5 separate regions of the Homo sapiens genome follow, and regions 2, 3, 4 and 5 are each reported to be linked to region 1. The links are microRNA targets in miRTarBase. Many come from high-throughput screens and were not tested one by one. Region 1 holds a microRNA gene; each other region holds the end of a gene's coding sequence. Distances are from middle to middle.
The links. Region 1 holds the annotated microRNA hsa-miR-1827 (UGAGGCAGUAGAUUGAAU, at 2,867-2,884, shown strand). A microRNA usually pairs through its seed, bases 2 to 8, with sites in the 3' UTR of a target mRNA and lowers its output. Matches are read on the target gene's strand: a 7mer-m8 pairs with bases 2 to 8, a 7mer-A1 pairs with bases 2 to 7 and ends in A, and an 8mer does both.

Region 2: miRTarBase lists ZNF891 as a target of hsa-miR-1827. Seed matches in the 3' UTR shown: 8mer at 1,727-1,734.
Region 3: miRTarBase lists ZNF747 as a target of hsa-miR-1827. Seed matches in the 3' UTR shown: 8mer at 704-711, 7mer-m8 at 846-852 and 7mer-m8 at 1,892-1,898.
Region 4: miRTarBase lists VCPIP1 as a target of hsa-miR-1827. The part of its 3' UTR that is shown has no 7-base or 8-base seed match.
Region 5: the mRNA of LMBR1L is a reported target of hsa-miR-1827. Seed matches in the 3' UTR shown: 8mer at 493-500.

Annotation. Positions count from the first base shown.
Region 1 is chr12:100,187,066-100,191,440 of GRCh38, forward strand. MIR1827 (microRNA 1827) reads left to right here and starts at 2,819; the gene lies at 2,819-2,884.
Region 2 is chr12:133,117,717-133,120,716 of GRCh38, forward strand. It overlaps ZNF891 (zinc finger protein 891), which reads right to left. Exons shown (of 2, transcript NM_001277291.2): 2 at 1-3,000. The coding sequence ends at 2,568. Among named protein-coding and RNA genes, the nearest start is that of ZNF891, 11 kb to the right of the region's middle.
Region 3 is chr16:30,529,759-30,532,758 of GRCh38, reverse strand. ZNF747 (zinc finger protein 747) reads left to right here. Exons shown (of 3, transcript NM_001305018.2): 3 at 1-2,392. The coding sequence ends at 260. It also overlaps a transcript of ZNF768 not described here. Among named protein-coding and RNA genes, the nearest start is that of ZNF747, 3.6 kb to the left of the region's middle.
Region 4 is chr8:66,631,932-66,634,931 of GRCh38, forward strand. It overlaps VCPIP1 (valosin containing protein interacting protein 1), which reads right to left. Exons shown (of 3, transcript NM_025054.5): 3 at 1-3,000. The coding sequence ends at 2,570. Among named protein-coding and RNA genes, the nearest start is that of MYBL1, 20 kb to the left of the region's middle.
Region 5 is chr12:49,094,895-49,097,894 of GRCh38, reverse strand. LMBR1L (limb development membrane protein 1 like) reads left to right here. Exons shown (of 17, transcript NM_018113.4): 17 at 156-756. The coding sequence ends at 223. It overlaps DHH-AS1 (DHH antisense RNA 1), which reads right to left. Exons shown (of 4, transcript XR_007063295.1): 4 at 2,151-2,494. Among named protein-coding and RNA genes, the nearest start is that of DHH, 1.6 kb to the right of the region's middle.

The sequences.
Region 1 (4,375 bases):
ATACACATGCATGACTTTTACAATGAAGTACAAACACACAACTAAGAAGGCAGGCCAAATGGGGAATCTATCAGGTGGCAGGCCTGCAAGCCAGAGGTCATTTGCTATGGTTTGAACGTCCCCTCCAAAACTCATGTTGAAATGTAATTGTCACTGTGATAGTATTAAGAGGTGGAACCATTAAGAGGTGATTAGGCCATGAAGGCTCAGTCCTCACGAATGGATTAACGCTGTTATCTCAGGAGTGGGCCTAGATTCAACTGCAGAAGAGGAGATGGCAATGTGGCCAGGGAAGCAGAGATTACAGCAAGCCAGCCATAGACCAAGCAATGCCAGCAGCCACCAGAAGCTGGAAGAGGCCCGGAACCGACTTTGCCCTGGAGCCTCCAAAGAAACCAGTCCTGTCGACACCTGAACTTAGGCCTAGTGAAGCTGATTTTGAACTTCTGGCCTCCCAAACTATCAGAGAATTAATATGTGTTGTTTTAAAACATCAAGTTTATGGTAACTTGTTACAGCAGCCAGAGCAAATTAATACAATCACTCTCTAAAAAGCTATTGCCCTTCAAACCAAGGACTTTGAGAGGCTGCTTTCTGCTGTGGTCCAGGCTTCAGCTGGCATTCAAGTTTGGAGCATTAATGTCCAAAGTTAGAATATATTTACTTCTGATATGATGTCTTTTGATCCTGAGGATCTGGGAGGGTGTCATCAGAAAGACCCTTTCCAAAATACTCTAGACATTTACCTGGACAGATGAGTACATCATCCTTCCAATTCTAACACATTAGAGCAAACACCTAATAAAACGTGCACAGCCTCAAATAAACCAAACATCTAAGAAACAATACTCTTGTTGTAGAACTTTCAGACAGGTACAGCTCCACTGGTTCCCTACTGCCCAAAGGGCAGACACCCCCACCCCTTCACCCTGGGCTCCCTGGCCTCCTCAGCTCCTCTTCTATCCTCACCCCCTTAAGCACCCTATGCACCTGGCATGAGAACCCATGCCACTTGTGAGACACACCCTGTTCTGACTTCCTTGCCTCTGCATGGGTGTCCTTGAACTTACATTTCCCTTTGGCCAGTCCCTCTCCATCGCTCAAGCCCTTTAAGTCAAAACTCGTCTTCAGAGCAAAACCATCACTAGCCTCTCCCAAAACCCACACCGCAAAGAATAAGCCATTTCTTCCTGGTGCACCCAGGGAGGCTGTGACATGCTGGGTTCAGCCTTGAACTGCACCCTACGGCACCTGTGGCAGAGGACTCACAGGCCTTGCCTGCCTGTCTTCCTGAGAACCCTTCAAACTGCTGAAGGCAGGGAGGGACAGCCTCTTACCCAAGGGAACAACCTCAGCCCCATCCCACAGTGAGGGGGAGAGGAAAATGCAGCAGGGAGGGAGGGAGCACCAGCTGCACAGCCAGGCAGTCCTGCAGAATGGGCTTCTCTAAACTTGAGTGGTGACCCACTGTGGGCCAGGATATCAAATTAAGAAGATAAGAAGTCAATTTTGAGGGGACAAGCATTTTTTTTAGTATTAAAAGAGAAAATAGTACTTAGCTTTACTATATGTAGCAGTGACATTTTTCTTTCAGTTTTATGTACATACTGACAGTATACATTTACATACAAAGGTGTATTATCTGCTGTCGGTTCCCAGTCAAAAAAGTGAACAACACTGTGTCCGAAGGTAACATCCTTCCCAGTGTCCAGAATTGGTTCCTTCTGGTGGGTTCTTAGTCTCGCCAACTTCAAGAATGAAGCTGCAGACCTTTGCGGTGAGTGTTGCAGCTCTTAAAGGTGGCACGGACCCAAAGAGTGAGCAGCAGTAAGATTTATGATGAAGAGCGAAAGAACAAAGGTTCCACAGCATGGAAGGGGACCCGAGCAGGTTGCCGCTGCTGGGTGGGGTGGCCAGCTTTTATTCCCTCATTTGTCCCTGCCCACATCCTGCTCATTGGTCCATTTTACAGAGCGCTGATTGGTCCATTTTACAGAGTGCTGATTGATCCATTTTACAGAGTACTGATTGGTGTGTTTACAATCCTTTAGCTGGACACAGAGCACTGATTGGTGCGTTTTTACAGAGTGCTGATTGGTGCATTTACAATCCTTTAGCTAGACACAGCGCTGACTGGTGTGTTTACAATCCTCTAGCTAGACAGAAAAGTTCTCCAAGTCCCCACTCGACCCAGGAAGTCCAGCTGGCTTCACCTCCCACCAGGAGGCCAAACAAAAAGGACAGTGCTGAGAGGAACCATCGTCCTGCTAGGGAAGGGAGTGTGGCACAAAGGCAGGTGGGTGTGGGCAGACCCCCCCTGCCACGGGTGTGCAGGGCAGAGGATGATGAGCCCCAAGCAGCAGGAGCAGGAGCAGTAGAGCAACTCTGCCCCTGAAAGGGTCTGGAGCCTTCCCTCATCACTCTTCCTCAAGTCGATGCTGGACACCCACTATGTACCAGGCCGTGTGAGGCACTGGGGTAAACCAGAGACAAGACAGACAGGGTCCCTGCCCCATGGAGCTCCCAGCCTTGCAAGGGAGCTAGACCACAGATGAGTACACAAAGAAATACAGTAACTACAGGCAGTGGTAAGGGCTGTGAAGGAGAAGCACGGCAGTGAGGAATGGGAGGAACAGGGAAGGCTTCTCTGAAGAACGAACAGAAGTAACCAGAGAAGAGACAGCCCGCCCTGCAAAGGGACAGCCTGAGGCAGGGCCTGTCGGGAAGACAATACATCTGAAGAACTGCAAGAAGTCAAGTGGGCCTGCAACAGAGGAAATGACAGGAGTCAGACCCCATGGGACCCTGAAGGCCATGTTCAGCAGCACAGCCTTCAGCCTAAAGCAATGAGAAGCCTCTGAAAGGCTGAGGCAGTAGATTGAATTGATTCAGGTCCCTTAGAATTGGGTCCCTGCAACAGGTGGACCCAGGACCGGCAGAGAATGCAGATAGGCGCCCCTCCTCAGCCCCCAACTCTAAATATAACAGAAGACATGGCTCAGTTGCTCCCTTGGTGGCCCTGGACAAGACAGGCTGAAGTTCTCTGAGCCTCCGCTTCCCATGCTGAGTCATGGTGAAAGGTCTCTGAGTCTACAGGCCAAAGCCACTGCTCCTCTCATGACTGCAGTGATTTCCATGGACAGTGTTATGCAACGGCGGCCCTTCTGATACGTGGGGCCCTGGGAGCGTGTGAACTGATCGAGACCAAGAGGACTGATGGGACACAACTGCTAAGCACAACCTCATGCTCCTGGGAGCTATCAAAGAAGACCAGGCACCAATGCAGCAACACACACACACAGCCCAGCCAACTTCCCGCAACTGCTGAAACTCCACGGGCCCAAAAGCAAGTCGCCTTCCTTCCTGCTTCCTTCTCTAGAAGGTCTGGCTTTAAAAATGTCACTGTGAGGCAGCAGCATGGTGACTACATGCCTTGTCTTTCTTGGCAGACAGAGCCATGCCTTCCAACGAGGAAAATTACAAATACCACGTTATGGCTCCTGGACAGGAACAACTTCTCCCAATTCACCAAACATCTGTGTGCCTGCTTTGAGCTGGTTTGCGCCCTCTGCTGCAAACAGGGGCTGAAGAGACGAGTCACTGTCACGACTTTAGAGTCCTAGACACTAAAACCATAATAGATTCTTGGGAACCCCCGCCGTGCTCACAGATAACTCTTTCTACCAGGCCTGAGTGGGTCAAGAATGAAGCAAAAACTAAGAGTCAGAGCAGGGCCAACTGCAGGGCCCGCAGAAGACCTGTGGGAGGGAGGCCTGGAAGGAAGAGCACACCTTCCCGGCCAGCTCAGCCCTCACAACTGCCCTTGAGAAAGGCACCCTGTCCACTCCACCCAAGGGAGTGGAGACACACTTCACCTACTGGCTCAAAAGAGTCAGAGGGGCAACAGTGGCAGCAATGCCAGCAGGCCTGGGGTGTGTAGCCACCATTTACAGAGCACTTACAATCAGTCAGGCAGTGTGCTAGGCATTTCTTATTTGTAACCTTAACAACACTCTCACTGATCCAGAGAGGGAGAGGTTTACACACACACACACACACACACACACACACACACACACACACACTCCAAGAGGATATGAGGGCTTAAAGCTTGGGTTAGGCAATAAGCATCTGGCATCCTCTAAGCATGAAAGGCACAGTAGTGAACTATACTGACAAAATCTCCTCCTAGGAGGTGATGCTCTAGTAGGACACAACAGCAGATGCTCAAAGACTAGATCAGGGAGCAAAACCATCCTGAATCTCTAGCCGACTGAGGGCCCCCTGTGCTGGCTGGTGAGCTACTGCCTACTGGACAATCATGAAAGCCACAGTCTCCCTAGGGATCCTCTCAGCTCCTTGCCCCTCAGATGGT
Region 2 (3,000 bases), 33 Mb from region 1:
CTACTACCCTTTCTCCTATTATTCAAACTTGTCTACATCCAGTCTTTACTTCTTTGCCCTTTATTGATTCCTAAAGTCAGCCCAATCTAGCAACCATCTTCATTATGTACCACTATGTTATTTCCAACTACAATCACAAATGATCTTCACTTGGCTGTATATGTTTACCTTTTTAGACTTCATCTAATTGGATCCCTAAGTAACACTAAAAACATTTACCTTCACCTTCCTTTTTTTTTTTTTTTTTTTGAGATGAAGTCCTGCTCTGTCACCAGGCTGGAGTGCAGTGGTGAGATCTCATCTCACTGCAACCTCTGCCTCCCAGGTTCAAGTGATTCTTCTGCCTCAGCTCCTGAGTAGCTGGGACTACAGGCATGTGCCACCACACCCGGCTAATTTTTGTATTTTAGTAGAACCAGGGTTTCACCATGTTGGCCAGGATGGTCTCGATCTGACCTTGTGATCCGCCTGCCTCAGCCTCTCAAAGTGCCAGGATTACAGGCGTGAACCACCACACCTGGCCAACTTCACCTTCCTTTTTGAAACTTGTTTGTCTTGGTTCAGTGAAACTCCACTCTTCTTGTTTTCCTCTTATCTCTCTACTATAGTTCCTTTAAATGTATGTCTTCAGGGTAGGTGGCAGACCTTCCCTTTTCATTCTTACTCACCTTCCAAAGCCTGTTATTGTCTCTTTACTGATGTCACTACAATTTATATCTCTATCTAGACACCTCCTCAATTCTAGAATTGCGTACCAACCTCTTCATCTGGATGTCTCACCATCCTCTGAGGCTAACATGAATAACTACAACAGCAGCTACTGCCTTCTTTCTTCCACCGTATGCCACTCCTTCCATATTTTGTTAGAACTAATCTGGTCAGTATCTGCAAGATCAAGCAGCAAAATCTCATGCTTTACTTAGCATTTAAAATTGGTAACTTCCCCTCTGTCTGAAAACTTTCTGTAGTTCCAATGCTGAAATGTTGGGATACTCTTTTTGCTGTTCTAAACACTTGCTTTCAGTGATCTTGGTTCTATCTTCATCTGCTGCTTAAGCATAAAAGCTCGGTCAACATTCCTTTTCCATACTTTTTTTCTATGTTCCTCTTCAAATGTGTACATCCAACATAAAACATTTAACTGTATATACTTCTGTTTTTCTACAATATGGTGACTGCGTTGACTGTATTTATGTAGTGCTTTAAAAAAAATCAGTAAGAGCCAGGCATGGTAACTCATGCCTGGAATCCTAGCACTTTGGGAGGCAAAGGCAGGAGGACTGCTTGAGCCCAGGAGTTTCAGACCAGTCTGAGCAATGTAGGAAGAGCCTGTCTCTACAAAATATATATTTTTAAAATTAGCCAGGCATGGTGGCATGCATTTGTGATCCCAACTACTGAGGAGACTGTGGTGGATCACCTGAGCCCAGGAGGTCGAGGTTGCAATGAGCCATGACCACACCACTGCATTCTAGCCTGAGAGACAGAGACTCTGTCTGAAAAATTGAAAAAAAAAAAGAAAAAATCAATTAACATATTTTTCTTGGCCGGGCACAGTGGCTCACGCCTGTAATGCCAACACTTTGGGACGCCTAGGTGGGTGGATCACCTGAGGTCAGGAGTTTGAGACCAACCTGGCCAACATGGTGAAACCCCGTCTCTATTAAAAATACTAAAATTAGCCAGGCATGGCGGTGGTGCCTGTAATCCCAGCTACTCAGGAGGCTGAGGCAGGAGAATCACCTGAACCTGGGAGGTGGAGGTTGCAGTGAGCTGAGATTGTGCCACTGCACTCCAGCCTGGGCAACATACCGAGACTCCATCTCAAAAAACAAACAAAAAACCTTATTTTTCTCATGTAGGAACATATCCAGATACAAGTAGTGCAGGGCTGGTACAACTATTTAAAGATTTCTTTGAGGAACAGGGATCTCTTTCTTCTACTTCATCCCTTGGCTACAGCTGTCATTTTCATGATCACAAGATAGCTCTTTCAGCAGCTTCAGGAATGGCCAATTCATAGGGACAAAGATGAAGTGCAAAAAGTAGAGGACAAGATAGATAGTTCTGATCCCAGTGATATGTCTATTTTTGAATCAGCAAGAATGAATGATATGGCTACCCTTAGCTACAAGAAGTCAAAGAAGCGTTCTATAACCAGAGACCTTATTGTTCTTGGCTAAGATGGAATTCATTAGTAAGGAAAGATGAGCTCAAATGTTTGGTTGGCTGCTAGCAATACCAGTCTCACTGGGCCAGAAAACAACTTTTATAAAAACACCAACAAAGCAGTAAAATATAGTCCAGATTCTCTGAACACAATGGAATTAACCTAGAAACCAACAATAAAAAGATAACTGAAAATATACCTACCTCACATATTAAAAATACCTAATTCTAAACAGCCATGGATCAAAAAAAGTCATAATTAGTATTTACAGAAAATGTTATATTAAAAAAAGAGCCATTTGTAACCTTAAATCGTTCTTTTAGAGAACAAAGACTGAGACAAGGAGCTTGGAATCCACCTTAAGACAATGAAAACAGCAATTCCACATTCATAACACTTACAGGGTTTCTCTCTCAGTATGAATTCTCTTGTGTATAATAAGTGAAGAGCTCTGACTGAAGGCTTTTCCACATTGAATACATTCATAGGGTTTCTCTCCAGTGTGAATTCTCACATGCCTCCTAAGGGAAGAGGAAACACTGAAGGCTTTCCTACATTCCTTACATTCATAGGGTTTCTCTCCAGTGTGAGTTCTTATATGCATTCTAAGGGATGAGACCCCACTGAAAACTTTCCCACAGTCACTGCATTCATAAACATTCTCTCCGGTATGAATTTTCTTATGAACTTTAAGGTGAGAGCTCGTGTTGAAGGCTTTTCCACACTCACTGCATTCATAGAGTTTTTCTCCAGTGTGTATTCTCTTGTGCACTATAAGGTAAGAGCTTGTGCCAAAGGATTTTCCACACTGATTACATTCATAAGGTTTC
Region 3 (3,000 bases), not on the chromosome of region 1:
CCTTCATGCGCCGCACGGCGCTGACTTCTCACCTGCGCGTTCACACTGGCGAGAAGCCCTACCGCTGCCCGCAGTGTGGCCGCTGCTTCGGCCTGAAGACCGGCATGGCCAAGCACCAATGGGTCCATCGGCCCGGGGGCGAGGGGCGTAGGGGCCGGCGCCCTGGGGGGCTGTCTGTGACCCTGACTCCTGTCCGCGGGGACCTGGACCCGCCTGTGGGCTTCCAGCTGTATCCAGAGATATTCCAGGAATGTGGGTGACGGCCTAAAAAGTGACCATCTAGACATTGTGGGCGGCCCGAGATGGGCTCAGGGGCCCGAACCTCTGCAGCGGCCTGCAGGGAGGTCCCAGAATCCACCGCAAGAGCTGGCCTGGGGTGCGGACAGTCTGATCTTGGGCTCTCAGCAGCCTCTTCTGCCAGCACCTTGCTCCCCGCTGCCCTGGGCTCTCCAAGGCCCCCTTTGCTGAGGCAGGGCTGAGGTGAGAACCCCCCAGACCTCCATACAGGGAAGCAAAAGCTGTTTCTCCTCCCAGAGATGCTAAGAGGATTGAGGTAGAGAAGAACCTTGTTTTCTCTGTTGTCTTTTTCTTTTTACTTTTTTAATTTTTTGAGACGGAGTTTTGCTCTTGTTGCCCAGGCTGGAGTGCAATGGTGCGATCTCGACTCACTGCAACTTCCACCTCCTGGAGTCAAGCGATTCTCCTGCCTCAGCCACCCAAGTAGCTGGAATTACAGGCACCTGCCACTATGCCCGGCTAACTTTTTGTATTTTTAGTAGAGATGGGGTTTCACCATGTTGGCTAGGCTGGTCTCGAACTCCTGCCCTCAGGTGATCCACCCACCTCTGCCTCCCAAAGTGCTGGGATTACAGGCGTGAGCCACCTCACCTGGCCTTTTCTTTTTTATTCTTTGACCTTCCCACAAGACAATACCCATTGTCTGTTTTTTTTGTTTATTTATTTACTTATTAAGACAGCATCTTGCTCCTCACCCAGGCTGGAATGCAGTGGTGTGAACTGGGCTCACTGCAGCCTAGACCTGCTGGGCTCAAGGAATCCTCCTGCCCCAGCCTCTCAGATGGCTGTGACTACAGGTGGGCAACACTATGCCTGGCTAATTTTTAAATTTTTTTGCAGAGATGGGGTTCCCACTATGTTGATCAGGCTGGTCTCAAACTCCTCGGTTCAAGCAATTCGCCCACCTTGGCCTCCCAAAGTGCTGGGATTACAGGGGAGCCACTGCACTGGCCTTCATTGTCTTTTTGCTGCACAACCTAAAAAACCAGTGACCCTGTATTGGATCTCGCCTGCAGTTGCTGTATTGATTTGGGCCCAGGCAGTGTTTTTAAGTGATAAGAATTAGTGATGAAGATCTAAAGGGATATTTTGCACCAAAATCCAGGTTTCTGGCATCTCTTGAAAAATCCAAAGATTTCGCAAGTTCACCTAGGCTCTCAGAAAGTCGCAGTTGTTGGGAGTTGGGCCGGAGCCAGAACTCCCAACTTACTGTGGTCCGGCCACTCATCCCATCAGCTCCTGACCAAGCATGAGTAGCCATTCATCATGGCTTGCTTTTAGTGTTTTTGGTGTTTATCTTAAAGTACAGCAAAGAAGAAAGGGAAGTATTTCTTGAACCCATGTCTGTGTCAAAACAGTCCTTGCATCTTTCCTGTCTTTAGGTACGCACCATCTTTGCTGTCTTTAAGTATGTGCCATCATGGGCAGAGGGGGCTAGGCCAGGAACACCTGGTGTTAGATTTGTAGCCAGTGGCAACCGTACCCATCTGTATCCCCAAGTTCTACACGGAATCCCTCCAGCACTTCACGACTCCATTATCCAGCTACCACTAATTCCTTTGTGGGCAGAGTCCAGCCACGGGCAGCCCCTGCCCTGCCTCTGGTCAGGACAACACCTGCCCAAGGAGAGCAAGGGCCTGTGACCTCTGCTGGCCTGTGCGCCCTCACCTGTCACCCAGCTCAGCCCTGTGTCTGGCCTACCCAGGGAGGAAGGAACCAGATTTATCAGCCTGAAAGGAGGTAGAAGTTTTGGAGAAAAGACACTGTTCGGGTGTCAAGTAATGAACTGACTTTATTCGAACCTCATCTCCAATCCAATCCCACCGTGGTCTCTCTCTCCCTCAGCTTTTCTGGGGCGGGTTGACTCGTGTGTCACTTTATCACAGGGGCACATGGGGTGAGAAGAGGAACCTTGGCAGTAGGAGATACCTTTGTACCAGGTTTTAATTTCCAGTGTACATCTCAGTCCCCTCCCCTAACCCTCAACACAGCCTGGGGAAAGCCCAGCTTGCAACACCAGTTCTCAGCCCAGACTGACAGCCAGATAGATCTTGGCCCTGAGTTTGCCAATTAAAGATGCCGTGATTATTACCTAGAGGTCTCTGAGAGCTTTGAAGTTTGTAAAGTTTACTTATGGCCCAGAAACCAGGCTCCAACTCCTCTGCTTCCTGCCCTCATGACCCAACCTTCCAGCATTTCGTCAATTTTTTTTAGTGTCGTGAAACCCTTAAGCCTTAGCCCCACCCCATTCTCAGCTCCTCAGTTGGTGGCACAGATATTTCCACCTAGAGGTAGGGCCAGGCTAAGTATCTTTTAAAAATGTAGCTATTCTCGGCCGGGCGTGGTGGCTCACACCTGTAATCCCAGCATTTTGGGAGGCTGAGGCGGGCGGATCGCAAGGTCAGGAGACCGAGACCATCCTGGCTAACATGGTGAAACCCCGTCTCTACTAAGGATACATTTTAAAAAAATTAGCCTGACATGGTGGCACGTGCCTATAGTCCCAGCTACTCAGGAGGGTGAGGCAGGAGAATCGCTTGAACTCAGGAGGCAGAGGTTGCACTGAGCAGAGATAGCACCACTGCACTCCAGCCTGGGTGACAGAGCGAGACTCTGTCTCAAAAAAAAAAAAAAAAAAAACTAGCTACTCCCTGGGCCCAGTTCCTCATCTATTGAATCAGAATCTCCAGGGATAGAATTTTA
Region 4 (3,000 bases), not on the chromosome of region 1:
CAACTTAAATTTGGTATGATTAACTATAAAATGGATTACTGAAGAAAAAATTTACAACTTTATTTCAATGTTTAGTGAAGCACTGCAAACAGAATTGCAGGAATGCATTTTAGTTATAATGTTACCTCTAGGGCTAAAAAAAAAAAAAAAAACAAATTTACCTGAGATGTCTAGCTTGCACGCCAAGATGTGGCTATATCACAAATGGCAGTACTAGAAAAATAACCATGCTATAGTCATGTATTTGGTTATGAAAACCATATGGAAAGACAAAGGATGATATTTAAAAACTTAAAAGAAACCCTATTCTAAAACTTCTTTGTGAGGATACCTGGCCTACTTCTCAAAAACCATCAATTCACCCCAACCAAATTTTCAGCTGATTTGAAAGAATTTCAAGAAATTTGATCACTTATCAGAATTGAGCCTTTTATTCATTTATCAAGGGAGAACCCAAACTATTACTGTACTATTCATACCTAACTGGCTTTTAAATAGCATTGCTGTAGCTAGAGAAATTAATAAAGTTGTCAGAGATTAAGTCCATCTTCTAACATTCACATACGCATTCCAATTTGCACTAAATGTAAGAATAGGGAGATAAAGTTTGTTTCTGGTATTTTATGTTAATGCTATGAGATATCTGTCAGTTATCAATGAAGAAAATATTTGTTAAAGAAGATTATATCATTTTACATGAAAGCAGTGCATTTTTTGCTTAAACAGTTTTCCTGTATTTAAATCCCCCCAAAAAAAGTTCCAGTGGCTGAAAAAGCCAAAAATAATTATAGTGGTTAGTGAAGTGATATTTGTAATTCGTAGTTTAATACACAGAAGCCACCTTTACTAAGTAGTAAATAGTATTTGGTAGCTACAGCTCTTATTTTATGCAAAAATAGTGTACAATATAAAAGTTTAAAAATTTCCTGCTGTTTTGATAGGGAGAAAATTTAGGATGAAGATAAAATATAAAGACAAACGTGATAATGTGATAAAAACTAACCCAAATATATATTTTGCTCAGATACACCTGTAAAATGTCTAGATTCTCCATTCTTTCCTTATTTAAAATAGAGTAGTTTGTTTAAGAAGTGGATTCAGTTAGAGATACTTTCACAGAAAGATGACCAAAATCTGCCTTATCTGGAAACACAAGTTAAAGTACTGTCTATATCCCTTATGAATCAACAGGCAGAGATTTTTAAACATCTGATAAAATACTTTCTGACATACATTTTCTTAGAATTACAAACACAGTTCTGCATCTGTTACATGTGCAAACAGAGACAGCCAGGCTTTGAATGCTCTAGGTAAGAGATTGTATTAACATATATTTTGTCTTTCAGCCATTCAAATTCAACTTAATTTCAGTGAACAGAGAAGAATATGGGTTGAAATGTACACTTCAGGATACAGATTTGCAGAATAAAATAAAATAGTGCAATACCAATCTCAGGATAAACACTCTTCTGTTGTTTTTAAGGAATAAGCATGAAAGCTGCTTCTCAAGGAAACTGGCACTGAAGATTTGATGAATACACTAAGCAAATACCCAGCTGATCAGGGTGTGATGCAGTAAAATTTGCATCTAAACCCAAGTGAAGCCAACAAATAAACTCTTATGGATTCTGAAAAAAAAAAAAAAATTTTGGCTCAAAGGGGCATAAATACACTTAGCATATACAGGCTTAAATACCACTGATCAAAATTGTAGAACAATTAACTCATTCATAAAGATAAACTCTTATTTATAAATTCTCTACTGCTACCATTATTTCTTTTTCTACCACACTTTGCAATCAACTTTTCTGCAAGATTAAAAAAAAAAAAATCAGGTTGTTCTTGACCAAGCCAGGAATCAAAAATAATGGTAACATATTAATAGAGCACACACAATTGGCTGTGGCTCAGACAGCAACACAACTGAATCACATTGACCTCATCAATCTAGAAGAAATTTTTCCCCAATCTTGCACAAATCAGCAAAATGTTATATCGTTACATTCTATTCTCAAGATATTTTCGCCAAGAAATCTCTATGAATGTGTTTACGTTCATAGAAACATTTGCATTCCACTGTCTAATAAATAATTGTATGAATTTTAAGATACAATTTAGTTCAGATAAAATTCAAGTTTACATAAACCTTTTGACACTAGTATATGAGATGGTTACCTTGATGACATCAACATTAGCACAATCTCATTTCCCCTCCATTTGTAGGCTTTTCAGAAATCAAACGTATTTAAGTAAGAGAATTTTCATGTTGGAAACATTAAGACTTTCATGGAATTAAAATTACAAAGAACTTCCAATGAACCACATATATGGAAGAAAGTCATCTCAGCAGATCTAACAGCTAATTTATAGAAATTCAGAGCCAGCCTGGGCAGCAGTATATTAAAAGCTATGGCCAATCACACACTTGCTATCATGCACTGAATAACAAGATATAATCTTTGAATTATATACGTACAAGATTTTTAATGACTAATCAAGTTACGTGGCCCAGCCAACAAATATTACATATTCACAATAAACATTCTGCCTTTATTAGCCTCTAATTAAATCAAGAGTGATCCATTGGCTCAGTTGTGTTAGTCATCTCAGCATCTTGACTATCCATCTCTTCAAGCTCCTCCACGGAATTTCCCCTTTGTGCTTTTGACCTTGTGGCAAAGGCTGCTCCCAGTGCATCTGCTACACAGCCATCAGTTGTTTCTGTATTCAAATTTTCAGTACCACCAGTTAAAGGAAAAGATTCAGGCAAACCAGTCTGAAGACTCCCAGACTTTGCAGAAGAACTCACAACTTCTGTTTTCCTTTGAGGAAGATCAGATGGTGACTGCTCTGTACTTTGATCCCGAAGGTGCCTGTCCATTGAAGCCTGAATAGAAGAAACCATTTCCTGCAATTTTTTTCGCTGGGCCTCAACCAAATCAGGATCAAGCTGCCTGCCGTCTCTCATTGTTACTACTCCAGGAGCTATTCGAATAAGCT
Region 5 (3,000 bases), 51 Mb from region 1:
ACACTCTGGAACATGGATCACCCCAGCAGGGGAGAGGGTGTGCTTCCTGCTTTGTGGGTAACGTACCTCATCCACACATTCTGTGGCTTGGCTGCCTGGTCCCTAACGGACTGGACCTTTGACTTGCTTTTGACTGCCCATCTCCTCTTCTCCAGGGCTGGACAGACTGCCGCTGCCCGTCTCCGGTTTCCCCCAGGCATCTAGGAAGACCCAGCACCAGTGACCTCCAGCTGGGGGTGGGAAGGAAAAAACTGGACACTGCCATCTGCTGCCTAGGCCTGGAGGGAAGCCCAAGGCTACTTGGACCTCAGGACCTGGAATCTGAGAGGGTGGGTGGCAGAGGGGAGCAGAGCCATCTGCACTATTGCATAATCTGAGCCAGAGTTTGGGACCAGGACCTCCTGCTTTTCCATACTTAACTGTGGCCTCAGCATGGGGTAGGGCTGGGTGACTGGGTCTAGCCCCTGATCCCAAATCTGTTTACACATCAATCTGCCTCACTGCTGTTCTGGGCCATCCCCATAGCCATGTTTACATGATTTGATGTGCAATAGGGTGGGGTAGGGGCAGGGAAAGGACTGGGCCAGGGCAGGCTCGGGAGATAGATTGTCTCCCTTGCCTCTGGCCCAGCAGAGCCTAAGCACTGTGCTATCCTGGAGGGGCTTTGGACCACCTGAAAGACCAAGGGGATAGGGAGGAGGAGGCTTCAGCCATCAGCAATAAAGTTGATCCCAGGGTTTGCTTTGTTTTTTTAAAGCACCTGTCTCTGTGTATATTTGAACAGCCTTGCTCCCACCAGCCCGGCGTCTGCCCAGTAAGAGAAGCAGAGGGGTCCTGCCCACCATCCTTTTCCTTCCCCTTCATCTATATTATTACCATCCTTTGGGGACTTGGATCTGGTGTTAGGCCATGCAGTTGGGCAGTGGGAAACTCCTCCATCCTCAGTCTTGCTTAAAGCTGGCTTGTCCCCTGACTCCTCCTTATATTCATGGCCTTGTTTCTGTACCTTGAGTATTGGGGGTAGGACATGGGCATAGGAGTAGGCTAACCTCCCCGATACACTCATACCTTCAGCCCTATCCTCCCTGGCTTAACTATTGGATATAGAGTAAAATAAGTGGCTGGCTGACAAGGATTTTCATTTCCTACCTGAGAGAAGAATCTAGCTTTTTACTAGAGGCCATCAGTTTCTTGAAAAGCCCATGTGCTATGTTGGGAGTAAGAGCGCAAAACTTAGGCTTATACAGATTGTGTATTGCACAGCTTCCAGGGACACCATTCACCTCATAGTCATTGTGTGGATAGTTACTATGATAGTTTTCTAATAAATGTCAGTCATCTTGAGGAAGGGGTGCTTTTTTTTTCTTTTTTCTTCTTCTTTTTTTTTTTTTTTTTTTTGTGAGACAAGGTCTGGCTCTATCACCCTGGCTGGAGTGCAGTGGTGCAATCTCAGCTCACTGCAACCTCCGCATTCTGGGCTCAAGCCATTCTTCCAGCTCAGGCTCCAGAATAGCTAGGACAACAGACACATGCTACCATGCCTGGCTAATTTTTGTATTTTTAGTAGAGATGGGGTTTTGCCATGTTGCCTGGGCTGGTCTTGAACTCCTGAGCTCAAGTGATCCACCTACCTTGGACTCCCCAAATGATGGAATTACAGGGGTTAGCCACAACACCCAGCCATCTTTTTTTTGGGGGGGGGGGTCCTCACTCTGTCACCCAGGTTAGAGTGCAGTGGCATGATCTTAGCTCACTCTACAGCCTTGAACTCTTGCACCCAAGTGATCCTCCTTCCTCAGCCTCCTGAGTACCTAAGACTACAGGCATGTACCACTACCTCCCACTAATTAATTTTTTTTTTTTGAAACGGGGTGTCACTATGTTGACCAAGTTGGTCTTCAACTCATGGCCTCAAGCAGTCCTTGCCTCGCCCCCAAAGTGTTGGGATTACAGGAGTGAGCCACTGTGCCTGGCCTGGTTTTTTCTGATGTACACAAAGTTGCTATGAGTACTAGCCATAGAGTGTGGTGAGGGGAGGGTGAATATGAAACACAAAGTGTAGATTCCACAAATGCTTGCAAAGCACCCTTCTGTAGAGTAGGCACTTAACCTTGGAGATACATGATAAATATGTGTGTGCTTAAGATTGCTTTGTCTAGTAAGGTGCCAGATAATTCTAATACTGTTCTAACACTGCAGTTAAGTAATGGTTCTCGAGGGAACACAGGTGGGCAGTGTTGGGACATCAAGGAAGGCTTCTTAGAAGAAATGACTTCTAAACAAAAGAAATTGGACGTGGTGCCTCTGAGATGAGATCTGAGTGGCTGAAAATGGAGCCCCGGGAGTCCAGAGAGGGAGAAAGCTGGAGAGGTGCCTAGATGGACGGTTAAGGGAAGTGATCCTCACCTCTTACAAAGACTTTTGAGTGTCCACTGCCCTTCAGCAGCTTCCAACTGAGAAGTCATTCATTTGAAAAACAGCAGCTATTAGATGCCTGGCAAAGAAGAGAAGGGGAAAAAAGTTGGAAGTCCTAAATGAGACAATAAGTACCAAGCTCTGTTCCTGGTTCTGGGGAAGTTCCAAAGGAGACTGCAAAGTTAGTAGAGAAATGGGCCCCTGGTATCCTCACCTCCCAGTCCTGCTTAATGCTGAATGTGAGGAGAGATGGAAGTCGGGGAGATCTGGGGAGGACTACAGAGAAGGGAGGCTCTGGTTGTATGCCCAAAGGGCTTGGCTGGTCTTGGGCAGAAATTGGAACCCATACTTCCTGGATGACAGCGGAGGGCATGGCCTGCCAGGGTAGGCTTTGAGAGAGTAAAAATTCCAATTCAAGTATCAGAGGAGGGTGGTTTGGTTCCAAGTTTAAGCTTGGAGGTAGAAGGATGTTTAGGCAGCCAAGGACTGTAAAGCTACAAGTATTTCCTAGGCAGGTGTCTGCCTGGTTTCCAGGATGGGACACACTTCAGTCGCAAAATGGACCAGCAGTGACCGGCTAGATCC